Linked DNA regions of Homo sapiens. The protein of the gene in region 1 interacts with the protein of each later gene in a pairwise test. Each region holds a gene or a part of one and is shown in the gene's direction. Other genes may lie near its edges.

The links.
Region 2: the proteins of RASSF5 (region 1) and NDUFV2 interact in binary tests that used the Homo sapiens proteins (3 or more experiments, as listed by UniProt).

What each region holds. Positions count from the first base shown.
Region 1 is NC_000001.11:206,535,026-206,538,612, forward strand, and holds part of RASSF5 (ras association domain-containing protein 5), read left to right. Parts: intron 1-3,146; coding exon 3,147-3,268; intron 3,269-3,587. UniProt on the Homo sapiens protein: Potential tumor suppressor. Seems to be involved in lymphocyte adhesion by linking RAP1A activation upon T-cell receptor or chemokine stimulation to integrin activation.
Region 2 is NC_000018.10:9,123,112-9,126,698, forward strand, and holds part of NDUFV2 (NADH dehydrogenase [ubiquinone] flavoprotein 2, mitochondrial precursor), read left to right. Parts: intron 1-1,762; coding exon 1,763-1,872; exon of another isoform or gene 1,873-1,885; intron 1,886-3,587.

The sequences.
Region 1 (3,587 bases):
TTCGAGACCAGCCTGGGAAAAATGGTGAAACCCTTTTTTAATTAGCCAGGTGCAGTGGTGGGCGCCTGCAGTACCAGCTACTCAGGAGACTGAGGTGAGCCCGGGAGGTGGAGTTTGCAGAGAGCCACGATAGTGCCACTGCACTGCAGCCTGGGTGGCAGAGTGAAACCTTGCCTCAAAAAGAAAAAACAAAAAACAAAACATAAATTGAGCACCAGCTGAAGGCTGTGGAGGACAGTGGAATACCAAGGGCAGGGGTTGGTTTGGTTTGGCAGCAGCTGGTGACGAGCTGCCTTAAGGGAACTGTGGTCTGTGGAGAATTAACCACTGGGTCTAGTGGAATGTGGCTCTGTCTTTGGAATCTCATGGGTCTCCCCAATCCCTGAAAATGTCAGGCCTGCAGGCTGTTGCTTTTGGGTTTGGAGAAAGGCATGGGGGCTCTGACTTCATCTCTGCTGGCCTAAAAGCCCTGGGCTTGGCATTTCCAGGACGAGGAAGTATGAAGATGTGCTTCAGAGGTTTTGCTGCAGCCTGTGATTACATGGTCCGATGGAACAAAGTCTTTGGTGCTCAAACATGCTTCTTATAAAATCCCAGAACACTTCTCAGAGTCTTCTGCTACTTAGTGTTGTCCAGCTCAGCATGGTGATGTTTTCAGGGTGTGTGTGTGTGTGTGTCTGTGTGTGTGTGGTGTGTGTGTGTGTGTGTGTGTGTGTGTGAGAGAGAGAGAGAGAGATGGAAATTGAGAGATTCAGATGCACAGGTGGACATAGACTGCCTGTGCCAACAGGACAAGGAGCTAAAAGAGGAGGAGAGAGAAATTCCTCCTCTCCCAGGTGCCTTCCCATTTGTGAGTTATGGCAGCTGTCATCACCGTGGAGCTGGGCGAGCTTTCAGTCCTTCCTCCTTTTCCTTGCTGCCATTTCTTGGCATCCTCAGAGCATTCTTCATCGCTCAGAGCTCTACCAGAGCCATACAGGTGTGTCCCAGGGCCAGCGCCAGGAACAATGCTGCCCATTGTGGGTTCTGGCCTCAGTGCTCCCTTATCAAAACCCTGGTATTTCTGGGCACTGCGGGCAGAAGTTTGGCCTGCACTTCCCTTTGTACCCTTCACCTTACTAAAGGGGAGGCTGTTTTTGTGCTGAGCAAGAGGTCTCCCACGGAGGACCAGAAATGCATGTGGGTGCCTGCAGGTAGATGGGTGCATGCCCCAGGGAATTGACTTCATTCATTTCTGTCTCCAAGTGAGAGGAGGAGGGAGGCGTAGAGAAGCGTGGGATCTGAAGGAGAGGATATTGGTGGGCTTCACTTTCGAGCACAAAGGAGATGAGCAGTGAAGGTTCCAGACACTGTTACAGAAAGGTGGTCAGGCCATGGGTAGGAAGGTCGTGCGGTTCTGGGATCTCTGTGTGTCCCCACATTTGTCAGGGTGCTCCCCTATGGACATTAGTGGCAAAACCCGTGCAAGAAACATGGTCCAGGTGCTTATCTTTGGGGGAGTAAGGGAAGGGGCAGCTGGGGAGAGGGGGGTGTCATTCCAAAGCTCCCCAAAAGTGGGGAGAAAAGGAGCCATCACCCCTCTGCCAAGATAGAGTGTGCTGTGGTGGCTTTTAAAAATCGACACCAAATGTACTGAATTTTTGGAGCTTGTTAGAAGGAAGGAAAAGCATTTCGAGGTGCCTGAGCCCTTATCAACAAAAAGTGGCCCCCTAATCCCCAGGTATGCAATCAAGTCCAGGCTGTCACGACTCCTGCCACAAAACCCGCCCACCCTAACCCATCCTCATGACTTGCCTTCACAGTCCAGAAGGAAAATTTATGAGATTCCAGCGCCTAGAAGGCTGGGCCTTCTGGCCGAGCTGAGGCACCTCCAGAATAGGTGACTCCAGCTGACCTGGCAGCTATCTGTGAGGACCACACCTCAGATCCGAGCATTTTCCCTGCGGATGGACTTGTGTTACTTTCTTCTGCTGCCACCTTGTCTTCACTACCCCCCACCCCCGCTCCCCTGCCCTTCCCTCGCCTCCCTGAGTCTCCTGCTGCCTTTGACTTCACCTCCCTTCTGCCAGGAGGCTCCAAAGAGAGCCCTTGAGAAAGCTGGAAAATACTAGCAGCCTTGGTGCTGCCACCAATGAGCTGTGTGTCATTGGGCACCTCACTTTTTCTCTCTGGCCTCAGTTTCCCCATCTCTGAGGTAGTCCCCAAAGCTCTTTTCAACTCTGGTCACTAAGTCTCTGCTTCCATGGAAGTGAACATTGTCGATGGAATGTGCTTCCCCCGCTGAATCCCCGGATCTGGGATGTGGTCTGTGGGCTATTTCAGCTGCATTCAGAGTAGCATCCCCACATTCTAGCCTAGGCCGGGTCAGAGAGAGGTAACAGCACTTCCTGCTGATGATAATGCCTTTGTCTCTGGAAGCACTTTTAATTCTTCAAGATATGTCCTCCTTTATAACTAGAAGCAGGCAGGGGAGCTATTACCCATACAGGCTGAGTATCCTTTATCTGAAATGCTTGAGACCGGAAGTGTTTCTGATTTTGGACTTTTTTCAGATTTGGGAATATGTATGATACCAGTCAAGCATCCCAAATTTGAAAATCAAAAATCCGAATTGCTCCAGTGAGCACTTCCTTAGAGTGTCATGTCGATGCTCAAAGAGTTTCAGATTTTGGAGCATCTTGGAGATCTGATTTTCAGCTTGGGGATGCACAACCTGTATTTTACAGATTGGCAACATAAGGCCCATAAAAGTCAAGTCCTTCCCCAGGGATTTATGGGTGCTGGTGATTAATGTAAAGTGGTAGAAAGAGCACCAGTCTGGGAGGCAGAAGTTCTGACCTTGAGAAAGTCACTCAGTCTCTAGGCACTGATTTTCTATCTGTAAAATGGAAATAATAATGATTGCAGAGTCACACAAAGTAATGCAGGTGAAAGCAGTTTGCAAACGCGTAGAGCACTTAACTTGCATCCTTCCTGGGGGATCCGAGAGCAGGGTGGCATTCTCACGCTGTCTCCCGCCCCACCACTTCTCTCCTGCACTGCTCTTCCCACTGGGAACTAATGCAATCTCCAAGGTTATTTCTCTGGGTGAAAGTGGGGAGGAATCCTGCCTGTCCTCTAATCTCCCTTTTGTTCTTTACCTCCAGACTGTAAATTCACCTGTCACCCAGAATGCCGCAGCCTGATCCAGTTGGACTGCAGTCAGCAGGAGGGTTTATCCCGGGACAGACCCTCTCCAGAAAGCACCCTCACCGTGACCTTCAGCCAGGTAGGTGCCAAAGCTCTCGTACCAAGCTGGGAACAGCCTCTGCAGGTGCCCCGGGCTCCACTTTCTCTCCCAGGAGCTCTGGTGAGCAGGAGGTGGCATGAGGCCTCAGATTCCACATGCACTGGATGGAGTTCACAGACACCCTGTTCCAAGGGGACTAGGGGAAGTGACACAGAGAACTCTGAAGATACTCAGAAGTCCCCTGTAGTTCTCCCCAAGTACAGAGCCTATTGTGGCTTAGGGCTCTGAGCCAGAGATGTGGGTATGAGTGAGCAGTGGGGTGGCTTCCAGAGAAGCCTTCTGACGGTCCCTAAAGGCC
Region 2 (3,587 bases), on another chromosome or scaffold:
CAGATGTTATTACAGTAGCATTTGAAAAGTAAATTAGCATTTTAAAAGTAAATGGGCATTTTCCCCTACAAAACTGCCATTGCTACACTTCTAACTATATATGTCAAATGAAGTAATATTTTGTTATTGAATATAATATGTGCATGTTGTAAAAATAGCTGGGTGGTATTGAAATATATAAAACAGCTGAAGTTGGCTCAAACCCCCCCACCCCCAACACCATCAAGGTATAAATCCTGATAACAATTGGATATATTAGTTGTAGATTTTATATCATTTTAATTATTAAATATATAAATGTACTACATGTATGCTTGCTTTTTAGACTTTATTTTGGCTGTATTTCTACAGCACAATATATATGTCTGCCTCATTTTTTTTTTCTGTTTTTTTGAGTTGAGGTCTCACTTTGTCACCAGGCTGGAATGCAGTGGCTGGATCATGGCTCACTGCAGCCTCCAATTCCTGGGCTCAAGTGATCTTCTGCCTCACCCTTCCAAGTAGCTGTAGCTATGGGTGCATGCTGCCAAGCCCAGCTAATTGATTTTTGTTTGTTTTTGTAGAGAGGGGTCTTGCTATGTTGCCCAGGCTGGTGGTTGTGAAATCCTGGCCTCAAGCAATCCTCCTACCTTGGCCTCCCAAGTGCTGGGATCACAGGTGTGAGCCACCATGCTTGGCCTGCCTCATTTTTCTTTTACAAACAGTTACTTTGATGTACACACACATCTTTGCGTACTTGTCCTGTTGTATGCTGAGATAGTTTACAAGAAGTAGAATTGTAGGGTCAGACTTTACCGTATTTTTCCCAAATGCCTTCCCTAAATGTATGAGACTACCCATTTTCTTCACATCCCTTGATAATCTTTGACGTTAGGAGTTTTCTGAGTCTTTGCCAAATCTGATAATGTGACTGTGATTTTAGTAGTTTAATTATTACAATCAAAATGAAAATAATACAGCCTGATGCACTGCTGTATAACAGTAAACACTGGTGATAAGTCCTCTGAAATTTGATTGCTTTTAAAGGAACAAGTCCACTAAAAACTTCCTTGAATGTTAAAATTACATAGAGTTTTTTTTTTGTTTTTTTTTTTTGAGAGAGTCTTGCTCTGTCACCCAGGCTGGAGTACAGTAGCACAATCATGACTACTGTAAAAAATTTTTACTACTGTAAAAAAATTTTTAATTTTTTTGTAGAGCTGTGTCTCCCTATGTTGCCCAGACTGGTCTCAAATTCCTGGGCTCAAGCCATCCTCGCACCACGGCCTCCCAAGGTGCTGGGATTATAGGACGGAGCCACTCCACCTGGCCTAGGATTTTTTTCTTTTTAAAAAACTTTTTTTTTTTTTTTTTTGGAGATGGAGTCTTGCTCTGTTGCCCAGGCTGGAGTGCAGTGGCGCAATCTCGGCTCACTGCAAGCTCCGCCTCCTGGGTTCACGCCACTCTCCTGCCTCAGCCTCCCGAGTAGGTGGCACTACAGGTGCCCGCCACCACACCTGGCTAATTTTTTGTATTTTTAGTAGAGACGGGGTTTCACCATGTTAGCCAGGATGGTCTAGATCTCCTGACCTCGTGATCTGCCCACCCCAGCCTCCCAAAGTGCTGGGATTACAGGCGTGAGCCACCGCGCCTGGCCTCTTTTTAAAAAACTTAATAGTCTTAAACTTTTAATATACCTCTATAAAAATTCTTTTTTTTTTTTTTAAACCAAATGACTATTAAAATATAACCTGGTCCTTAGAGTGTTTATTTGTATTTTTAGGAATAAAGGTTGGGGAGACTACACCTGACAAACTTTTCACTCTTATAGAAGTGGAATGTTTAGGGGCCTGTGTGAACGCACCAATGGTTCAAATAAATGACAATTACTATGTGAGTATTTCAGGTAATACAAGTTAAAGTTGTATGATGTCATATTTAAAACATTTTAAATATTTGATTTTGTGTCCTTAGATGTTGGTTTCTGAATTACTCATTTAGAAGAAATGGTTACCATAAATATCCAGGTTTTAAAAAATTCTTTAAACATTTTTGCATTTAACTTCAGAAGACAAATTTTAAAACTTTAGATTATGAAAAATTTAATAATTTGGATATTAATACAGAAAATAATCCTAGTGTAGCCAACTATCAGGACTTAACTGAGAGTAATATTTTGCCACATTTTACTTCAGATACTATCATCATCATCATCATTTGTAGAAATAAGCTACAGATACAGGTGAAATACTCCATCCCAAATCTTTTTCTCTTCCTTTTATCCCCAGAGATAACCATTATCATAAATTGTGTCTATATATGTATGCAGCTATACTAATATGTTGTATGGCTTTTTAAAAAAATTTTATAGAGATGGTATCATACCTCTAAGTACTGCAGCTGGATCTCACAAGTTTTGCAGTCTTTTTTGTTTTTGATTGAGCGTTTCTGTTTTTTTTTTGTTTTTCATTTTGATTTCTTTGACCTGTAAGTTTCTAAAAATGTTCTTAATATCCATATATATGGCGTTTTCTAGTTATTTCTTTAAAAATTGCTTGCTACCCTAATTATATCACCGTTTTCATTCAAGATACCTTGTTAGCTCATATTTCTTAGAAATTTGTTTATGGAAATTTTGGAGGGACTGTACTTAAGGTAGATTTTCTTTTAAGAAGGGATTTGCTTTGTTTCTCTCCTGCTCCTGGCAGTACTGCTGGCCCCAGAAAAGCCCCTCTCCTTATACCCTAGGCCTCTGTTCCTCCGGTGTGAAAGGTTCCAGACTAGCAGTTTTCTTTGAGGGACAGTTTACTCTTATAATGAGGTTAAAGCTTTTGGGGACCTTAACTTTGTGTAGCTTACATGGTCTCTTGTTAGACTCTCTGGGGCTGGCTGGGTCCCTTGCCCCTCTAAGCTTTGAAACTCTGAAGCAAAGTTTGCTTGATGTTCCACTTTCTTTCTTTGGTTTTCCTTGAGAATTTGGCGTCTGGGTACTTATTTCTTGATTTAAATAGGAATTAGACAGTCAAGGCTTTGTGTGAAGCATTGTTAAGTCTAAATATAGTAGCCTGTAGATGGGTTTGTTTGAGATAGGTATTCTTTCAGTTAGCAGTAGTTAGATCTTTAGGGATAGATACTAGGCATCTACTTAACAAGTTACTACAGCTACTTTGTACCTTACTGTTTCTTCAGTAATACAGCATTTATTTAGTATGTACGTTGACACTGTTCTACTTTATATATTTTCTCATTAATCCTCAAAAACGTGCTGAATTAGGTTTACAAATAAACAAACAAACTTGGGGAGGCTGGGTAACTTGTCCAAGATTACTAGCTAGTAAGTGATAGAGCCAGAACTCAAATGCAAATATGTTTCAATTCAGAGCAATATTCTGTATTGCCTCTTCAGCTGCAGGCTCTTGTTGCATATTATATTTAGCAGTGTGTACTATATATAGGAGTTACTTAATTGTTGATGCCTTGGTAACTATCTTGTGAGCTGAGACAGACAATAAAATCACTGGCATTAGGGATTTACAGATTTCAGCCGTAGAAAGTAATTTTGTGCCATGCGTGGTGGTTCATACCTGTAATCCCAGCACTTTGGGAGG